Regions from separate parts of the Homo sapiens genome. Here region 2 is linked to region 1. The links come from fine-mapping of genetic effects on gene expression. Tissue or cell type: whole blood. Region 1 holds a variant in brackets; the other region holds the start of a gene. All regions are shown on one strand. Distances are from middle to middle.

What was found. PIP is the estimated chance that this variant, and not a neighbour inherited with it, causes the effect.
Region 2: it holds the start of ING5, and the variant in region 1 is fine-mapped to the expression of ING5 in whole blood (TOPMed, PIP above 0.99).

The regions. Positions count from the first base shown.
Region 1 is chr2:241,549,188-241,554,404 of GRCh38, forward strand. All of the region lies in intron 1 of BOK-AS1 (BOK antisense RNA 1), which reads right to left. It overlaps LOC105373974 (a long non-coding RNA gene), which reads right to left and starts at 3,654. Exons shown (of 3, transcript XR_924069.3): 1 at 3,497-3,654; 2 at 744-871. It also overlaps a transcript of BOK not described here. RefSeq lists an enhancer at 2,278-3,088 and a silencer at 2,758-2,996. The variant C/T (reference allele first, on the strand shown) is at 2,056.
Region 2 is chr2:241,700,128-241,705,344 of GRCh38, forward strand. ING5 (inhibitor of growth family member 5) reads left to right here and starts at 1,912. Exons shown (of 8, transcript NM_032329.6): 1 at 1,912-1,975; 2 at 4,526-4,597. The coding sequence starts at 1,939. RefSeq lists silencers at 1,206-2,025, 1,768-1,931, 2,116-2,675 and enhancers at 1,330-2,162, 2,401-3,030.

The DNA.
Region 1 (5,217 bases):
CTGGGCACAATGACTCACACCTGTAATCCCAGCACTTTGGGAGGCTGAGGTGGGTGAATCACCTGAGGTCTGGATTTTGAGACCAGCCTGGACAACATGGTGAAACCCCATCTCTACTAAAAATACAAAAATTAGCTGGGTATGGTGGTGCACACCTGTAATCCAGCTACTTGGAGGCTGAGGCAGGAGAATTGCTTGAACTTGGGAGGCAGAGATTGCAGTGAGCTGAGATCGCGCCACTGCACTCCAGCCTGGGTTGCAGAGATCCCGTCTCAAAAAAAATAAAGATAAAAACAAAAAAAACACTTCAGTTCCTGAGTCCTGATATACGTCCTTTCCAAATACCACATAAAAGTAAAATGAGGCCAACATGAAACACCAAAACAACAAAACACCGAGAAGGTCAGGACAGAGCCTGGGCGAGCAGTGCCTGGTCTCGGGGCGGGGAAGCCCCGTTCAGGCCGAGGCTGCGGAGGATGGGTACATTTGACTCTGACAAAATGCGCAATCTCTGCACAGGAAGAGAAAGAGTTTGCAGTGAAAGTCTGGTGAGAAATATCTGTAGCATTTATAACCAACAAAAAAAAAATTCCCAGAGAAATGGGCAAATTCTCTACCTAGAGATCCCAAGAGTCCAATGAGCAACAGGGGGATGAAACACGCTTGGCCTTACAGGTGGCCTGGGATGTGCACAGTACAGCCACCTGGTGTCACCATTCATCTGCCGGATCAGCAATACTTACAGATTTTGTAATATCGGCCGGGTGCGGTGGCTCACGCCTGTAATCCCAGCACTTTGGGAGGCCGAGGCGGGTGGATCACGACGTCAAGAGATGGAGACCATCCTGGCCAACACGGTGAAACCCCGTCTCTACTAAAAATACAAAAAATTAGCCGGGCGCAGTGGCGGGCGTCTGTAATCCCAGCTACTCGGGAGGCTGAGGCAGGAGAATGGCATGAACCCGGGAGGCGGAGCTTGCAGTGAGCCGAGATAGCACCACTGCAGCCCAGCCTGGGTGAAAGAGCGAGACTCCGTCTCAAAAAAAAAAAAAAAAAAAAAAGATTTTGTAATATCAAGGGGTTGGCAGGTTGCTGCCAGAGGGGGTAGGTTCCAGCCGGGGCAGCTCTATCCACAGTGGAAGAGGATGTGGCTGGCCTGGCTGAGCCTGGACATGAGGCTGCATCAGGACCCCCTGGCCTGGCTGAAGCCCACTCTTCCAGACCCTGCCAGGGAGGGAAGGGGGTCGGTGCATGGGGGGTGCTAAAAGCAGGAGACTGTGGCCCCTGCTTGGCCTGTGGTCACTTGCCCTTGCCTGGCTGCCAGGCTAGTGGACAAACTCTCCAGCCGTGCGGGTTCCCGGCTGTTTACTTAGCACTCATCTGAGTTTATACAAAACCCTTCTGGTCCAAGCTCTGATCCTTCATTAGTAAGAGGAATGAGCTTCTGGGAAAAGTGAATGGGGAGGGGCTGTTTGCTCAGGGAGCCATCTGGGCAAATGGGGCAACAGGCCCACAGGCCTTGGCACAGAAAGTGTATGGTGCCCCCTTGGTCAGGTACATCCCATCTGATCATCTGTCACCACAGATCCCGGCATGAGCAGCAGACCAGGGGCGCGTCCCCCCTTCCAGATGGGGAAGGGGGTCCAGGCAGCTTGTGGGAGGAGAGCCTCCAGCCCAGGGAGCTCCTGTCCCTCTGTCTCTGCACCACACACCTCTCCCGAGGGGGCAACCCGGGTCACCTGCCCTGACAGCAGCTCTCACGGGACCTCGTTCAGCCCGTGCAAACTGTAGGGGTTATTGTGCAGTGCTGCGCCTCCTGGGGTGCAAACAGTCCCTGGCTTTCTGCCCATGGTGGGATGGGGTGCTTGCAGAAGCACCCAAGGGACCCTCCCTGGAACTGGCCCACTGCAGACTCTGCCCATCACCTCGAAGCCTCTCCTTGGAGGGTTCTGATCTGGAAACCAGGGCAATGACCTCATCCAGGGGCCTGGGCCAAGCCGAGAGGGTTTGCAAATTGATGCCCACTTAACCACTTTATTAGCTTCTGCTGCTGGT[C/T]CTCTTAAAACATCTCCAGGGCTTGAGGATGCTATAAATTTTTGGTCAAGGATCCTCTGGCAGCCTCACTATGCCAGCATCGGTCACATGGCCCAGCCCTAGACCTCCCAGAGAGAGGCCGGGGCCTGGGGGTGCCTTTTCTGGAGGCGCAGATCATACATTCCCTTCCTTCTAGAAGCAGCGTGAGGCTGCTTTTCTGTGACTCGGAACCAGCGCACCCCATCGCTCACTGCAGGTAGGAAGCATTTCGTTGCTTCATGAAGAAGTAGACATTCTGGGCCACGAGACAGAAGGGGAAGGAAGGACTCCGAGGTTTAGAATAAGCTGGTCTCACTGCCGCAGATGACTTGGGGGGACCCACTAAGGGGGTGGGGGGCACAATAGCAGCAGCCCCTGCTGTTGGCTGAGTCCACTCAGGGCTCACCACAGCCCATCTGCCTCCCAGGCACAGGGAAACCCCCCACGGGAGGTGGGGAGACCTCAGGGGGGTCCCTCCGCCCAGGAGGAAGGCTTGCGCTGGCCAAGTGAAAACACAGGAATCTCATTTTAGTTCTAGTGGGAAGGTTCGACCGCAGCGAGGGTGGGCTGGGATGGTGGAGGTGTCTTGCCGCCCACTTCCTGCCCTGCCCACCCAGTATTCACCTCGGCCACTTGAACCTGGAGTGGGGGTGACCCGTGGGGTGGGGTGGGGGGCGTTCTCTGAGGAAACGCCGGGTGGCAGAGTTTGAAGATGGGGGAAGAATGTTCCAGGAAGAAGGAAAGTAATCTTCGAGGAGCGGGAGAGGAGGCTGCAGAGGCAGGAGGGGCTCTGGTCTCACTGAGGGTGCTGGGGCTGTCCGGAAGGAGGTGGCGCGGCTGGGACGGGGTGGCAATGGCGAAGCAGCCAGGCAGCTGCTACCTCAGGAGCATTTTGAAAGGAGAACGAGAGGTGTGGCCCACCCACAAGCGGCTCCCTCCATGCAGCCTGGGTCACCCCATGCACAGGAACTGGCCAATGAGAATGTCCTGGCCCCACCAGAGACACCAGGCTCTGATCCAACTCAGAATGCGGGACTCCCTCAGAGCGCTGCAGCCTGTCTCTTGCACCCGCAGCACGCCCTGCACTCCAGAGGCTTCCTGCGAGCCGCTTGTGTTCGGCCCCACCCAGTCCCTCTGGCCTCTCCACGCCGCGCCATGCCGGTCCACACCCTGTCCGGCCCACTCATACCATCCACGCCCCTGCACATACTGACAGCTCAGTACCCCTTAGGGGCTGGGCTCAGAACAGACCCTCTAAAGAATGAGGCCGGAGTGGTAGGGCCAGGCAGGACCCACCTATGCCTGAGGCTGCCGCCGCTGCTGAACCCTCCGTTCCCCGCCCCCGTCTCCTGTGTCTCCTTCGTGTCTTTTTCCCTGCAAGTATGTACTTTCCCCTGCAATGCCAGCGCGTTCAGAAACTCACATTCCACTTTTAAACGCTGACACCCATGACAAGCTCTTCCTCAACGGCAAGCAGCAAGCCCAGCTTATAAAGGACAAGCGGTTCGGTCACCTTCCAGCCCATCAGGGATCACCACTGGGAAGAAGCCATGGCTCCGTGGGCCTTTGTGGGCAGGTACTGCCCTCCTCAGAGGCAGCCTGCAGTGACCGGGAGGTGACGGAGGGGTGCCAGCCTGGGGCACGTGCAGACACACACTACCCAGCAGAAAGATTCCGGGCGGCTCGCCACACAACCCTCTGCCTGGTTTTGCAAAAAAAGGACCATCTGAAGGCCACCGGGTAGTGGGTGGAGAGGCCAGTCCAGAGTGAGGTGGCCGGCACAAAGTCCAAGGACTCTGCTGCCACCGACCCCCGTGGCCTGCAGGCTGAACGCCCGCCCAGTCCCACCCACCCCCGGCATGGCATCCCCAGTGTACCTGAGACTGGGTTATTTATTTATTTATTCTGAGATGGAGTTTCACCCTTGTAGCCCAGGCTGCAGTGCAGTGGCACGATCTCAGCTCACTGCAACCTCCGCCTCCTGGGTTCAAGCAATTCTCCTGCCTCAGCCTCCGGAGCAGCTGGGATTACAGGTGCCCGCTACCACACCCAGCTAATTTTTTGTATTTTTAGTAGAGACGGGGTTTCACCATGTTGGCCAGGGTGGTCTCCAACTCCTGACTTCAGGTGATCCACCCGCCTCAGCCTCCCAAAGTGCTGGGATTACAGGTGTGAGCCACCGCATCCAGCCGAGACTGGGTAATTTATAAAGAAAAGAGATTTAATTGGCTCACGGTTCCACAGGCTGTACAGGAAGCATGGCTGGGAGGCCTCAGGAAACTTACAATCATGGCGGAGGGCGAAGAGGAAAGAGACGTGTCTTACGAGGCGGAAGGAGGAAGAGAGTGAAGCGGAAGGTGCCACACGCTTTTAAAGAGGCAGATCTCGTGAGAACTCACTCACTATCACGAGCACTGCAAATCAGCCCCCATCATCCAATCATCTCCCACCAGGCCCCTCCCCCAACACTGGGGTTTACAATTTGACGGGAGATTTGAGCTGGGACACAGATCCAAGCTGTATCACCCACACAACTCACTTCAGGGTCTAGCGTTGCCAAGGGCAACGGGGTAGAGTGGCCTCTACCCCAAGGGGTACCCCTCAGTGAGGGAAGTCACTGGAGACAGGGAGGGGGGCTCTGGAAGCCTTCCAAGACCGGCAGACCTCCCTCCCCACTCCATGCTAGGGGTAGAGTCTCAGATCTGCCTCAGACCCACTGGGCAAAGGAAATGGATGACAGATCTACTCACAGCATCTGAGATTTGCAGCCGGCCAGGGCAGGTGGCTGCACAGAGGAAGGTGCCCTGCTTCTGGGGGGCACCACACATTTGTCACCGTGGGAGGGAGGGCTCAGCTCAGTCTCCAAGGCGGCACAAGGCCACAGCAGCCTTCCAGGAGGACAACCAGGATGCTCCCGTTCTGTGCCGTCAGGGGCTGGCTCTGTATGGCAGGGCCTGAGCCAAGGAGGAGAGAGGACCAGGGTGGGGGAGGCAAGCAGCCGTCACATGAGAGATGAGATAGAGAGGAGCCATGAGGAGGTGAATGGCTAGGCTGGGAGAATCCCAAGCCTGAGGGCTGGCTTGAATTTGCAATGTTGAATGTGGGCATCACTGGGTTATGGACCCCTCTGCGCCCCACTCTGTG
Region 2 (5,217 bases), 150 kb after region 1:
ACCAGCCATTATGCCCGGCTAAGTTTTTTTTTTTTTTTTTTTTTTTTGGGACGGAGTGTTGCTCTGTCGCCCAGGCTGGAGTGCAATGGCACGATCTCGGCTCACCGCAAGCTCAGCCTCCCGGGTTCACGCCATTCTCCTGCCTCGGCCGCCCGAGTAGCTGGGATTACAGGCGCCCGCCACCATGCCCAGCTAATTTTTTTGTAGTTTTAGTAGAGATGGGGTTTCACCGTGTTAGGCAGGATGGTCTCAATCTCCTGACCTCGTGATCCTCCCGCCTTGGCCTCCCAAAGTGCTGGAATTACAGGAGTGAGCCACCGCGCCTGCCCTATTTTATTTTATTTTTGAGATGGAATCTTGCTCTGCTGGCCAGGCTGGAGTGCAGTGGTGCAATCTCGGCTCACTGCAACCTCCGCCTCCCAAGCTCAAGCGATTCTCCTGTTTCAGCCTCCCGAGTATCTGGGATTACAGGTACTTGCCACCATGCCCGGCTAGTTTTTGTATTATTATTATTTTGAGACGGAGTCTTGCTCTTGTCACCCAAGCTGCAGTGCAGTTACATGATCTCTTCTCACTGCAACCTCCCTCTCCCAAGTTCAAGTAATTTTCCTGCCTCAGTCTCCGAGTAGCTGGGAGTACAGGCGCCCGCCACCACGCCCGGGTAATTTTTGTATTTTTAGTAGAGACATGATTTCGCCACGTTGGCCAGGCTGGTCTCAAATTCCTGCCCTCAAGTGATCCGCCCGCCTCGGCCTCCCAAAGTGTTGGGATTACAGGCGTGAGCCACCGTGCCGAGTCTGAAACATATTTTAATTATGTTTCTCCAGTATTTTTTTTTTCTTAAAATTTTCTTTTTTTTTTTTGAAGACAGAGTCTTGCTCTGTCGCCCAGGCTGGAGTGCAGACGCGATCTCAGCTCACTACAACCTCCGCCTCCCGGGCTCAGCCTCCGGAGTAGCTGGGACTACAGGCGTGCGCCACCACGCTTGGCTAATTTTTTTTTTTTTTTGTATTTTTAGTAGAGTCGGGGTTTCAACACGTTGGCCAGGCTGGTCTCAAATTCCTGCCCTCAAGTGATCCGCCCGCCTCGGCCTCCCAAAGTGATGGGATTACAGGCGTGCGCCAGCGCGCCGGCCTTCTCCAGTATTTTTGCATGCATCTTACGGCACACCTTTGCACGCCATCTTATTAACTATATCATACTGCCGCACGTGCCTTTTCGGCCAAGGCATCCAGATGGTGCGGGTCCTGCCTGCCTCGAGAGGTGGCAGCAAAGGAGCCAGTGCCCTCACTGGTGCTGGGCGGGGCGGCCGCTTTCCTCGGAGGGAAGGGGCGGCGTTGGCGGGGGAAGGGCGCCAGGGCCCAGGCCCTGAGGGAGGGGCAGCTCGCCCGGGCCACGCGGTGCCGGCCCTCGGCTCAGGCCGGGCTGAGGCCCCGGGGGCTCGGGGTCCGGGGGAAAGGCGCTGAGCCAGACAGGTCCCAAGGAGCCTTCGGGAAGGGAGGGCCTCGTGGCGGCCTGTCCGGGACCCGGCCGGGAGCAGGGGTCGCGTGGGCGCCGTCAGGACGGGCGTGAGGTCCCCGGGACCACGTGTTTGCGTTTGGTGGCCCAGGGGTCGCTGACAGGTGCGGAGGGGAGACGCCCACCTGGGTGCCCTGGGCCGCACGCCGGGCGGTGGGGCCGGGAACCCCTGCTCCTCCTCGGCCTCCGATCCGCTGCGGCCCTGGGTCCTGCTCGCTGCCCGACGCCGCTGCCACAACCTCCGCCCGGGCCCCGCAGCCCGCCGCCCGCCGGAAGCTGAAAGGCGTGTCCGACCCCGCCCCCGGGCGCGACCAATCAGCGCGCGCGACTCATGAATAGTGAGCGCGCTGGCACCGCCCCGCCCCCGCCTCCCGCGGCACCGCCCGCCCGCGCAGACCCCGAGCGCGGCCGCGGACGAAGATGGCGACCGCCATGTACTTGGAGCACTATCTGGACAGTAAGCGCGCCCCACGGGCCCCGCGCCCGCCGCCCACGCGGAGTCCTCCGTGCCGCAGCCCCCCGCGCGCCGGGCACCGCATGCAGACCCCGTGGGCTCGGGAGGGCGGCGGGCGCGGCCGGGCGCGACGGGGGGCGCGCGGACGGGGCGGGGCAGGGCCGCAAGGGAGGGGAGGGCGCGGGGGGCGGGCGCGGGGGGTCCCGCCGGCTGGGTCGCGCCAATTCCAGGTGCGTCACGGCGGGGCGGGGCCTGGCGATGCTGGGCGGGGCTTGCGGCCTCGACCCCGCCCACATATTAGGTCCCGCCCCTACCCAGGCCCCGCCTCATCTCCGCCCCCAGCTCCGGCCCCGGCCCCGCCAGGTCCCGCCCGTCCCTGTCCCGTCTGCAGGAGGAGCTGGCGCCCGCTGCGGGGCTCCGGGCCTTGGGGGCTCCGGGGTCTGGGCCTCCGCCTGGCTGTGCGCCCGTGTGCGCCGGCCTCTTGTGTGACCGCGGCTGGGGAGGGCGTGCGGGCCGCGGGGCGTCTCTCCCCGGCACTGGGGACTGCGGCGCGGAGGCGGGGAGGGCGGTGCCGAGTCGGCCCTGGTGGGCGGGCTGTGCTGTTTCCAGGTGGCAGCAGGTCGGCGCCCCCAGCGGCTGAGCGGACGGTGCTTTCCCTCACTTTACACACCAGGGAAGGTCCAGCGCTGCCGAGCAGCCTGCTCAGGGTCTCCCGCTCGTAGAGGGGCAGACCCCACGCGGGACCCCTGACGTCGGCCCGGGATGGGCACAGCTTTGGGGTCGCGGTGTTTGGGGTTGTGCCGGGTGGCTCTGGAGGGCCCTTGTGGGGGCGCTGCACTGGGGATCCTCATGGTCTTCGGCCTGGCACCCGCCCAGGGGCTGAGACAGTGGCGAGTGAGCCGTGGCCTGGAGCTGGAGACCGCTGCCCTAGAGGGACGCCCGATTCTGCCCATGTGCTCCGCTGTCTCTTGGGGGTCTGAGTAGTGGGGGGTTCCCTGGGTAGAAGAGTCAAGCTGGGGAGCACGCTGGAGGGGAGGCCTTCTCTATCCTGGTGCCCAGCCAGTGGGCTGGCCTCCCAAGGAGGGTTGACTTTGTGTGTGTCTGGGAGGCTGTGCCAGCCGGGAGGCTGTGCCTCTGTCCTCTAGGGGAGCTGGGAAAACACTGGGGCTGGAAGCATCAGATGCATAAGATAGAGTTAGGTTTAAAATGATTGCCTGGTAACTGTGAACAGCAGATGGGAGGGTGGCCAAGACTGGAGGAGGCAGCCCCCCTTAGGAGCCTGTGTCAGCTGTGCAGGGGGCGGAGGTTGGCCTGGTCTAGGGGGTAACAAAGCAGACGCGAAAGCAGCACGGGGGTCCTCCTGGCAGACTGTGGGGAATGGTTGCGCTAGCCACAGGGACTATTTAAGTAAAATTAAAAATTGAATGGCGTTAGTCCCATTTCCAGTGCTCAGTAGCTCCCTATGGCCACCACTGTCTTGGGCAGCTCAGAGAGAACATTTCTTTTCTTTTTCTTTTTTTGATTTTTTTTGAAATGGAGTCTCACCCTGTTGCCCAGGTTGGAGGGTATGATCTCAGCACACTGCAACCTCCACCTCCCAGGTTCAAGCAATTCTCATGCCCTAGCCTCTCGAGTAGCTGGGACTGTAGCTGTGCACCACCACGCCTGGATAATTTTTGTATTTTTAGTAGAGACAGGGTTTCACCATGTTGGCCAGGCTGGTCTTGAACTCCTGACCTCAACTGATTTGCCTGTCTTGATCTCCCAAAGTGCTGGGATTACAGGTATGAGCCACCACGCCCATCCGAGAGAGGAAACATTTCTATCCTTGCATAAAGTCGCGTGGGCAGCGTGGCTACACTGCTCAATGCACTGGATTTCTGGGTAAAGTAGGGGAAGATCAAGGAGGACCCAGGGGATTTTGGCTTGAGCCTTGGAAGATGCTGCTCACTGAGGGGGGGCAGCCTAGAGGGTGGGGTCAGTTGGCCTCCCCTGCCTGTGCTGTTGGTTTCCAAGTTTCCCTCTCCCTTCTTTGACTTCTGACAGCTTCCGAAGTGTGCACACAGCCTCTTGTCAGCACTGTTTGGTACCTGCATCTAAAAATGAGATCACAGTCCTTCCGCTCCGCAAACCCTGACAGAGACAGAATACAGAGTGGGCTTGTAGACTTGAAGTATAAAACTTTTGGCCAGTCCTGGTGGCTCACACCTGTAATCCCAGCACTTTGAGAGGCCGAGGTGGGCGGATCACCTGAGGTCAGGAGTTCGAGACAAGCCTGGCCAACCTTGTGAAACCCCGTCTCAACTAAAAATACAAAAACTAGCCGGGCATGGTGGCATGTGCCTGTAATCCCAGCTACTCAGGAGGCGGAGGCGTGAGAATCACTTGAACCTGGGAGGTGTAGGTTGCAGTGAGCCAAGATCGCACCACTGCACTCCAGCCTGGGCAACAAGAGTGAAACTCCATCTCAAAAAAAAAAGACAGAAAACCTTTGGAGGTGAATTTTTGTCTTGCTGCTGAGAGGTACATGGCTTCTGTGTTTTTGCGTTTCAGGTATCGAGAACCTTCCCTGCGAACTTCAGAGGAACTTCCAGCTGATGCGAGAGCTGGACCAGAGGACGGAAGGTGGGTTCAGACCTCTCCATACAACCAGAACTGAGTTCTGACAGGTGGGAGCCAGCAGCTCCTGAAGGCTGGGGGCAGAGGGTTTTGAGGGGACCCAGGTTAGTGGGGCATTGGCCTAGCCCTGGGCCGTGGGTATCACTCAGTGTCTTGCAGTAGGTGTTGATACTTTTGAAGCCACATTGTTTCTTGGGTTCTTACACATCTTTATATCATGTTTTTATAACCATCACCCTTTCCAATCAAAATATTTATTGCCAATTTTTTCTTTTAAATATTTTCAATTTTCAAAGTGTGTAGTGCGTGCATTGTTTTAAAAGTTTGGTAGTACTTTTTGGCCGTTTGATATTTAACTCCGTTTCTTTTTTTTTGAGACGGAGTCTTGCTTTGTCGCCCAGTCCGGAGTGCAGTGACGTGATCTCAGCTCACTGCAAGCTCTGCCTCCTGGGTTCACACCATTCTCTTGCCTCAGCCTCCTGAGTAGCTGGGACTACAGGTGCCCGCCACCACGCCTGGCTAATTTTTTTTTTGTATTTTTAGTAGAGACGGGGTTTCACCGTGTTAGCCAGGATGGTCTTGATCTCCTCACCTCATGATCTGCCCGCCTCAGCCTCCCAAAGTGC